2 separate regions of the Homo sapiens genome follow, and region 2 is linked to region 1. Evidence: fine-mapped expression QTL. A gene starts in region 1. The other region holds a variant in brackets. All regions are shown on one strand. Distances are between the middles of the regions.

Region 1 (5,375 bases):
GGCATTATTCTAAGTGAATGAAGCCAGGCTTGAATGTTACACACTGTATAATTCCAGACTTGAAAATAAAAAACCAATAGTGACAGAGAAAAGCCCTGTGTTTACCAAGGGAGTGAGGTGGGGTCAGGTGTGAGTAGAAATCGGTAGCTAAGGGAGCTTGTTGGGCTGGTGGAACTTTTCTGCATGCATTGTGGTGGTTACACAAATCCACTCCCTGTGCTAGAATTCATAAAACCCGCACACTCCACCACTGACCTCCACAAAGCCAAATTTACTGTGTAAAAAGTAAACAAACAAACACAACCCATATGAGTCCACCTCAGACCTAAACATCACAATCTCTAGGGAGGTGGGGCTGAGCTGATGGCTTTTCCTAACAAGCTCTCAGTGGTTCTCATGGACACTACGTTTTGAGGACCACTGGCTGGCATCACAATGGGGGTGAATGTGACTAGGAGGTTCTATCAAAACATAGAATGTGCCTACCCTCCACCCAGTGCTTGAACATCCCTTCCCCCTCATCACTCCGGGGAAGGATCCTGCTCAACACCCAACTACTCATTCAAACCTGGAACCCGAAACTTTAATGAAGGTTGCTCTACTGAGATTTTTCTCCCCACCGAACATGTCTGTGACCCACAAAGAAGCCCATGAAAGAAAGTGCCCAGAGAAACCAGAGCTGTGGAAGGCTGGCTCGACGGTGCCCCTCACTGCCCCTGAGAAAACAGACCCATTTCCTCTCTGCCCACCTCTTTCCCTGACATGTCCCCAGCAGCAGTCCTGTATTCCCAGTTCCTCTCAAGATGTTCTGAATAGTCTCTGGGTATCCTCTCATTGCCTTCAACTCAAGATATCTAAAACCAAAACTCATTGTCTTCCCACTCAAAACGTCCTCCCCTTTCTGCTGCCAACCCCAGTCAGTATTGTCTGCAGGCTTCCAGGCTTGGATCCTTGACTCACGGCCACCCAAGCTTCCTTCCCCCGTGTGCGATTAGTCAGTAAGTCTTAGTAGTGATGAGGGCTTCCTGCACCGTGACTGTCCGGCATGCTTTTTCCTCTCCCATTTCCTCAGCCACCAGCAATTCCAGGCCCCTCTTTACTTCGTATGTATTCTAGCGAGATCAACTGGCAAGACAAAGCTCAGACGTCACCTCCAGAAGGTTTTCATGGCTTGTGATAATCTGGCTTCACCTGTATTCTACTTCATGAGACAACTGACTATCTCGTGGCCTCTTCCCTGTGGCCTCCATCTCTCTTTGCAGCTCCAGTCCCTGGCACATGCTTGGCACACAGCTCACTGCAGCTGCTCAATGAGTTTTGTGGACTGGATGTTTGCTTGTGGGAAGTGGAAGCAGGGACCAGATGGATGGGCAGAAGGATTGTCCTATTCAAATATGCACTGGTGGTCCTGTCTTGTGTTTGGGCACCAGTTGAATCCAAGAGCTCTCAACCTGTGGAGTGTCGGATGAAATCTATGGAATCCCTCCTCAGAAAAGCAAATGAACCCACACAATGATGGCGCAGTTTCATTGTCATCAGCCTCCTGAGGCGTATCCACAATCACCAGGTCAGAAAACCCTGCTCCTTCCTTGCATTCAATTGGGCACATCACTATCAAATTAATTTTTCTGAAACACGACAAAATCTCATCAGAAATATACCACACTTTGTTGTCCCAAATGCTTGCCACCAGAAGTGTTTTGTATTTCAGATTTTTTGGATTTTGGAATCTTTGCATTATACTTACCAGTTTGGCATCCCTAATCCAAAACTCTGAAGTCAGATTAGCGATATTAAACCTGTACTAAGGAGAGCAATTCTGAATTTTTTGGCTTGGCAGCCACGGTTATTTTTGTGCCCCTCTAAATATACCTACTACCTACTATCCCCAGTGTGTAATCAGGCCATTGATGCCAGAGAGAGGTGTGAGTAGAATGATCACCAGTAGTGCCTGCCCTGAGAACGTGGCCACTGGTGCCCAGAGCAGAGTTGTCTGGGGACTGGCTGGAGGCCCATAGAGAGGCCCACACAAGAGCTCACCTGTGTTGACCAGCTCTCTTGCGTGCTCCAATTCCTATGCTGTTGCCTTGACTCAGCATGTGGTTCTCAGTGGGGTGATTCTTCCCTGCAGGTGACAAGTACTAATGTCTGCACACATTTACAACTAGGGAGGGAGTGCCACTGGCATTGAGTGGGTGGAGGCCAGGGATGCTGCTGAGCTTCCTGCATTGTACAGGACAGCCCCCACCACAAAGAACTTTCTGGCCCCAAGTGTGCATAGAAAAGATCCTGGTCTGCAGAGCCCTGTCCACCCATGGTCAATCCTGAAACTCTCCTTTGAGTCCCCCAGACTTTCCTGGGCCCTCCGGTCTTGCAGGATCTTCTCTTTCTTTCACACCTGTCCTTCCTGGGCAACATTTCTCCCCGACAAACCAGCGCCTGACCCTTGAGCAGGTCTCACCCAATCCTGCGCTTGTTTTAACCATATCCTTAGTTAGGTTCTAAGGTCATTGCGGGCAGGGAGGTTCATTTTCCTATAGGCCTGAGCACAAGGTCAGCGTGTGATAAATATGTGTTGACCCTCATAGATCCCTGAAGCACAGAATGAAAAATAAAATTGCTTAAATTTACTGATTTCAGGATATGGGAACAAAGGAATTGTGTTTAAATGTAAAAAAGAAGTTCTAGAATTTCCACAGAATTTACATTCTTCTTGTTGTAAGGAATATGCCTGGTAATGGAACTCAAATATCAGCTTGGATCGCCCTGGCCTTTGAAATTTGAGGTAAAATTAGGCTTAAGCCGTATCCAGCGCACAACAGAAACCTCAGTGTCTCCCACCCAGGGACTGTCTCGGAGGCTGTGTGTTCAGATGTCACTTCTGCCTCCCGGCATCTGCTCCTGAGTTTTCACTCTTCAGCCTCCCCTCCCAAGGCCTCCTTCCTACCCTGGCACTGGGCTTCTTGCCCCGTCCCCCTAGAATCCGTGGCACAGGGGCTTTATCTGTGTGGAGTCTCTACAGACGGTTAGAAACACAGAGTCAGCTAGAAATTAAGCAGTAGGCAGCTGTGATGTTTTTTGACAGCCTCATTTCTAAAACCCCTTCAGCAACCCCAGTCAAGGAGCTTCTCCCTCTAGACTCCAGCCTCCTGCTGAGTCACCTGCACCGTCTCTGCCTTCCTCCCCTTCCTCACATCCTCCCTGGCCCCATCTTCCAATTCCTCTGAACTTCTGCAGAGCAGCCAGCTCTTCCTCCAGCTTCAACTTCCCCACCCCAAGCAGGTGGGGCATCCTGACCCTGAGCAAAAGCAGTTCTCTCCCTAAGAAACACCGGTGACTTTTGTTCATGGCACTCCATGGATGCAAAGCTCTGAGTTCTGTTGAACAGGGACTCACCTACGAGTGGTGGTGCTATCAGCTGAGACGGGAAGCAGCACTCAGTAGAAGAAGAAAAGGCCTGGACTGGTGTGGGCATGCACTGGCTCGTGAGAAGCAGGGAAGGTCGCTCTTATGGGTCCCGTTTCTAAGTGACGTTCACGGCCTGGCTGTGTGTTGTCCAAGTGTTTTTCTTTCTTACCAAACCTTGGAGGTCTGGGAGCACCATATATGTCACACATGTGGGCAGGACTGGCCGTCGGGGCCGATGGGAGCTGCCTGGCGCACAAGTCCCTGGGGATGCCCATAAGTGCCTCACGTTGGCACTGAAGAAATGCAGACAGTGTGCCGCTTTGGGGAAGGCTTGTTGTTGCTGACTTTACACACACACACATATATATATACATACACACACACATATATACACATATATATGTATGTATACAGAGTGCTATAAAGTTATTCTTATTTTGTGAGTGATACAACCTTATTATTTAAAAATTAGGAAGAAAGTTAAAAAGAGGGTAAAACTCATATCTCTTCATGAGAAATGATCACTGTGACTATTTCAGCATACTTCCTCTGGCTCTGAGAAGAATCTTTAGGAAATAAGGAGCTTTTCATCTCCAGGGAGATGCCAGGGTCAGTTTCACCCCAAGGCAAAACCCTTCTCATTTTATGGGGCCAGATGCTGAAGATCAGAAACAGTTCGATCCTGCCCCGAGAAGGTGTCCGCCTCATCCTTGGAGTTAATGTGGCCACTTCCTAGGCAACTCAGAGGCTTTATGGGTCCTTTCGCCTCTTAAAATTAATTGAGTTATTCAGTAAATACAGGTTAAGCATCCCTAATCCAAAAATACAAAATGCTCCAAAACTGTTTTAGTACCAAAACGACCCTTAAAGAAGGCACTCACTGGAGCGTTTTGGATGTTGGATATCAGATTAGGGATGCTCAGCCAGAATGAATTCTGCAAATATTCCAAAATCAAAAAAAATTTGAAATCTGAAACACTTCTGGTTCCAAGTATTTCAAATAAGGGACACTCAACCTGCACTTAGTGAGTGATGCCAGGGAGTGGTACCAGTCACTGTTCTAGGCACTGAGGGTGCGTTGGAGACAAAGTGACAGCAACGTCCATGCTTCTTCCTCGCAGAGGACAGAGCCATGAGGAGGGAGAGTCTCTTCACTTCTCTGGGCCTTAGTTTCCTCCCCAGGCAAATAAACTGAGGAGGCTGTACCCAAATAAACATCGTCAGAGCTTAGGGGAATCATGTGGAGTGCCTGTTTGTCTTAAACACAAGCATTTCTTTAAGGTTCCTTAAAAAAAAAAAAGAAAAGAAAAGCTAAAAATGTTAATGACCTCTGCATTTTATTTTCTGGTATGTCCAGGTTTTTTGTTTTTGTTTTTAGACAGAGTTTTGTTCTGTCGCTCAGGCTGGACAGATCACGCAGTGGCATGATTTTGGCTCACTGCAACCTCCACCTCCCGGATTAAGTGATTCTCCTGCCTCAGCCTCCTGAGTACCTGAGATTACAGGCACCCACCATCACAGTCAGCTAATTTTTGTATTTTCAGTAGAGATGGGGTTTCACCATGTTGCCCAGGCTGGTCTTGAACTCCTGACCTCAAATGATCTACCCGCCTCAGCATCCCAAAGTGCTGGGATTACAGGCATGAGCCACTGCTCCTGGCCATATGTCCAGGTATTTTTAAATATAAAAACAAAATTTGGCCAGGTGCAGTGGCTCATGCTTGTAATCTCAGCACTTTGTGAGGCTAAGGTAGGCAGATCACCTGAGGCCAGGAGTTCGAGACCAGCCTGGGCAACATGGTGAAACCCCGTCTCTACTGAAAATACAAAAATTAGCCAGGCCTGATGGCCCATGCTTTTAATCCCAGCTACTCGGGAGGCTGAGGCAGGAGAATCACTTGAACCCAGTAGGCGGAGGTTGCAGTGAGCCGAGATCACACCACTGCACTCCAGCCTGGGCAACAGAA
Region 2 (5,375 bases), 57 kb before region 1:
CAAGGCCGAGGCCAGGCCCGTGCAGGCCTTCGAGAGGCAGGAGGCCGGGCCTGCAAAGGCCGACTGGAGATCAAGTTCTGCGCCTGAAGAGGCTGCCAAAAGTCAAAAGCGGGGCCTGGGAAGGCCGCCGAGAGCCATGAGCTGGGCTGGGCCGAAAGAGGCCACTGGGAGGCAGGAGGAGCTGGGCCCGGAGAGGCTGCCAAAAGGCAGGAGCTTCGCCTGAGGATGCCACAGTGAGACACCATCTGGGTCTGGAGGGTCCACTGTGAGGCAGAGGCTGGCCTGTAGAGTCCGACAGTAGACAGAAGTTGGGCAAAAGGCTGATTTGAGGAAGTTTTGGGCTTCAACAGTCAGCCACGAGGCAGACACTAGGCCTGGAAATAGCCCGACAGTCATGAGTTGGGCCTAAATGGGCCACTATGAGGGAGGAGCTGTGCCTGTTGAGGCTCCTCCAAAAGGTCATCTGTACACACACAGTAAAAATCTGGGAGTAACTGAAGACAGAGTTGGTAAGTAAAATAAGAAACAGTTATAAGAAATTAAACTATGGTATCCATAGGCACCCGGTAAAAGGTCAGTTGATGTTAGCTGCTACTTTTTTGTTGTTTAGAGACAGGGTCTCACTCTGTCACCCAGGCTGGAGTGCAGAGGCCTGATCATGACTCACTGCAGTCTCAGCCTCCCTGGGCTCAAGTGATCCTCCCACCTCAGCCTCCCAAGTAGCTGGGACTACAGGAACATGCCACCACACTAGGCTAATTCATGTATTTTTCTATAGGGATGGTGACTCCCTTTGTTTCCAAGGCCTATCGCAAACTCTTGGCCTCAAGCCATCCTCCTGCCTCAGCCTCCCAAAGTGTTGCGATTACCAGTGTGAGCCACCACACCTGGCCAGCTGCTACTTTTATCAATATTATTATTATTCCACTCAATTAAAAATTATTATTTTCAAGGCTATGCAACAGTATGTATCCTACAGCGTAATTGTAAAAACATATACAGTCGTCATCCCTCAGTATACAGAATTAGTTCCAGCCCCCCATCTCTGCATATACCAAAATCCATGCTTACTCACGTTTCGCTGTCACCCCTCTAGAATCCACGTATACGAAAATTCCAAATGTTAGTTGGGCATAGTGGCAAGCACCTGTAGTCTCAGCCACGTAGGAGATTGAGATGGGAGGATCGCTTCAGCCTGGAAGGTTGAGGCTGCAGTCAGCTGTGATAGCACTACCACACTCCAGCCTTGGACAAAAGAGGGAGACCCTGTCTCAGAAAAAAAACAAAATAAAACAGGTTAGAAATTGTAATCTAACCCTAAGCCTAACCCTAACCCTAACCACTAAGCCTAACCCCTAACCCCTACACTAACCCTAACGGTAACCCCTAACCCTAACCCCTAACTCCAAACCCTAACCCTAACCCCAAAACCTAACCCTAACCCTAACCCCAAACCCAACCCCAACCCGAACCCCGAACCTGAACCCTAACCCTAACCCCTAACCCTAACTCCTAACCCTAACCCCTAACCCTAACCCTAACCAATAACCCTAACCCTAACCCTAACCCTAACCCTAACCCTAAACCCTAACCCTAACCCTAACCCTAACCCCTAATCCTAACCCTAACCCTACCCTAACCCCTAACCCTAACCCTAACCCTGATTATTCAGGGCTGCAAACAGAAAGGATTTTGTTCACCGTCGATGCTGCCCTGAGTTGTCCCAAAGCGAGGCCGTGCCCCCAAGGTGTGTGCTGAGAAAGCTGCTCCGCGTTTTTGGTGTCCCCCGGGTCTGTGTTAAGCAGAACGCAGCTCTGCCCCCGCAAAGGCACCCCGCGCCGGCGCGGGCACGCACAGACTGACGCGACGTGCGCGCGGGAGGCGCGGTGGATGCGCAGAGAGCACGCCGCCGGGCGGGGGTTGGGGTGGCGTGGTGCAGGAGCACAGTCGCACGCCCCTGTGCTGGGGGTGGGGCGCGGTGCAGGCGCGGAGACGGGTGGAACCTCAGTAATTCGAAAAGCCGGGCTCGACCGCCCCCTGCTTGCAGCTGGGCACTACAGGACCCGCTTGGTCACGGTGCTGTGCCAGTGCGCCCCCTGCTGGCGACTAGGGCAGCTGCAGGGCTCTGTTGCTTATAGTGGTGGCCAGCGCCCCCTGCTGGCGCCGGGGCAATGCAGGGCCCTCTTGCTCACAGTATAGCGGCTGCACGCCGCCTGGTGGCAGCTAGGGACATTGCAGGGTCCTCTTGCTCACAGTGTGGTGGCAGCACACCCCCCTGCTGGCAGCTGGGGACACTGCCGGGCCCTCTTGCTTGCAGTGCAGTGGGGGCACGCCCTCTTCTGGCCCCTGGGGGCACTACAGGAACCTCTCGCTCACAGTGTAGTGGCAGCACGCCCCCTGTTGGCAACCAGGGCACTGCGGGGTCCTCTTGCTCATGGTGTGGTGCCCGTATGACACCTGCTGGCAGCTAAGGACACTGCAGGGCCCTGTTGCTCACAGTGTAGTCGTCGTACGCCACCTGCTGGCAGCTGGAGACACTGCCTGGCCCTCTTGGTGGCAGTGTCGAGGCAGCACGCCACCTGCAGGCAGATGGGGACTAGGCAGGGCTCTCTTGCTCCCAGTGTGACGGTTGGCGTCCCCTACTGGCTGCCTCCTGCACCACTTAAAGTCAGAGCATCAGTTTTTAAGCCCCATCAGTTCTGTAAATTCAACTGAAACGGAGCTAGTACTAGGGAGAGCTGATGTCCCAGTTCTTGTCTAACTTGGAAGAAAGATTTTCACCAAGAGGCAGTACAAAAATGGGAGACAACTTCATTGAAAAGAAATACAGTGTAAAGAGCTCATTGTAGAAAAATAGGGAGGAGTGGGCTGAT[C/A]GTGCATGAAAACATCCTAGGAGTCCTGTGCAGGGAATTTTATTTTGGACTTCTTCACATTCCTGCCTCTGTCTCAAGTCTCCACCTGTTCTCTTTGTCTGGTTTTCCTGCTACTGCCTTAGGTCCCCGACTTGCCACACTTAGGCTTGTGGGACCTCCTCACTGTTGGTTGAGGTACATGTGTGGTGATCAATCCGAATCCACTCTGGCACCAGCCTCCTTCCCGCCATCCCAGGCAGGCTGACAGCGGTCACGTTTGTACCCAGTGTGCCTGCCTATCTCTTTTGAATGTCCTTCTTTGCCCTAATCTGCACTTAGGGTGCCAGGTTTCTCTTAAGAATGTCCCCTTTGTCCTTCTTATCAGCATGTAGCTACCAATATTCTGACATTTTTATTGCAGAGTGAATGATGGTTGGGGCATCTTAAAGAGAGTTCTAGGGTTTTTCTTTCTGCATAGGTACCTCTTCGCACTCCTACCCACAACTGACAAGTGCCCATCCACTCCAGCACTAGAGATGCTACTAATATGTGCATTTTTGGTGGTCCCTCCAGGTGAGCCTTCTCAGACTTTCCCTTTTCCAGGAGCTCCCCCTCCTGTTCATGTCTAGCTATCTATCTCCTCTAACAGAGCCCACTATCCTGTGTGTTTCCCAAAAATAGTGATGGAAGGATTAATTGGAAACCATAGGAAATGATATGCATGTAGATGAAAACTTTACAACTTACACAAATAATCACTCAAAATCATCCTTACACTAAAAATGCAAAACTATACCATTTCTAGAAGAATCTATAGAAGAAAAGCTATGTGCCTTTGGGTTTGGTAATGAATTTTAACAAATGACACAAAAGGTTGATATACACAGAAGAAATGACAATGTGGATTTCTTAATATTTAAAGTTTATACTCTGGAGAAGACCTTGTTAAGATAACAAAAAGACAAGCCACATATTGAAGAAAATATTTGCAAAATACAGATCTGAGAATTTGTATTCAAAATATATTTAAAAATTCTTAAAACTAAACAATAAGTTAAACAGCCCAATTAAAAAGGCACACAGATCTCAACAGACATCTTACCAAGGAAGATCTACAGATGGCAGGTAAACATACAAAAACATGCTCAACATGCTAGAGAACTGAAAACCACAATGAGATAGCACAGCTGGTCTGCATCTCTTAGAACTGCTAAACTCTTTAAAAAATGACAAATTGCTGGAGGAAAAACAAGAACTCTTTTCATTGCCGGTGGAACACAGTGTATAAGACCAAAATATGCCACCCCAAAATATAATGGTAGGAAACCAGAATATGCCACCCCAAAATATGTCCCTTTTGCTTAAGAATTATTCCAAGCTGATTATTTTGAAAAAAAAAAATGCTAACAAAGGAAGTTCTGAAAACAGAGTAGAAGTTACCCTTGTGTAAGGGAAATTTACATCTATAAAGGAAATCCCCATTCAAAAGCTACCTCTCTCAACACCAAGAAGAGAAGGATAACTAAATCACTAAAGAGTCTTATCAATGGAGACTGCATGGACTTAAGTCTGTATAACAAACCTTACCCTTGTCTACTGTGCTTTTGCTGGCTAACTCCCCACTACTGCACCTCAAATCTTCTTTCTTTAAGTTCAACATAGTATTTATGCTTGAATTGAAAGCCACCTGTTGGAGATTTACTCATTTTGCCCTGAGTATCTCCCATGTATCCATAAGGTATACATGTTTTTAAACTTTTCTGTTTTTCTCATTTTAATCTGTCAGTTTTTACAGAGGGTCCCATCTCAGAATTCCAAAAACATAGAAAATTATTTTTCCTCCCCTATTACAAGTTGGGCACTTTTTTCCAAAGCTAAACAAGTTTCACCTTACAATCCAAAAATCACATTCCTAAGTATTTTGACAACTACTTTGATGCTATTTCCAAACAAAAGCTACCATGCAATTATTTACAGAAGCCTTATTCATAATGAACAAAGGAAAAAAAAGGAATCAGAAAGTCTTACAATAGATGACTGTGTGGGAATCCACTCAGACATCAAAAGTTGTTATAAAGATTATTTAAATGAAAGCATTTGAGATACTGAAGATAAAGGAAGAAATCTTAGCAGAACTTACTTTATCCAGTTAAAGCAGAGCTCCCAGAAAAATACAGCTGCCATTAACCCCATCCAAGGAGTTTCTTGCAAATTCAGCTGCCATGAAGACAGCGTACTCTTTCCCATTAGCAATGATAAATGAAAATGAAATCCTAAGCTCCCAACTGACTGAACAGACCCACTCTTGGCTGAGGGGACCCAAGAGTAAATTTCAAAACTGAGTTCTCAGCTTTGCTAGCATTTGAGATTGTGATGGTTGAATAAACTAATTAAGAGCCCAAAATGAAGGCTTGGAATAAATAACTGAGGGTGTCTAATATCCCAGTTTTTCATCCTAGAATGGGCAGAGTCCTTGACCCCATTCTAGGGAGACTTCCAAAAGAAAAAAGACCTGCATTTCTT

What was found. PIP is the estimated chance that this variant, and not a neighbour inherited with it, causes the effect.
Region 2: its variant is fine-mapped to the expression of LINC03066 in caudate (GTEx, PIP 0.97). The same link has a PIP of 0.9 or more in nucleus accumbens and prefrontal cortex.

The regions. Positions count from the first base shown.
Region 1 is chr6:202,847-208,221 of GRCh38, forward strand. LINC03066 (long intergenic non-protein coding RNA 3066) reads right to left here and starts at 2,638. Exons shown (of 8, transcript NR_126020.1): 1 at 2,041-2,638.
Region 2 is chr6:146,325-151,699 of GRCh38, forward strand. It overlaps the pseudogene SEPTIN14P6. Among named protein-coding and RNA genes, the nearest start is that of LIRIL2R, 31 kb to the right of the region's middle. The variant C/A (reference allele first, on the strand shown) is at 2,874.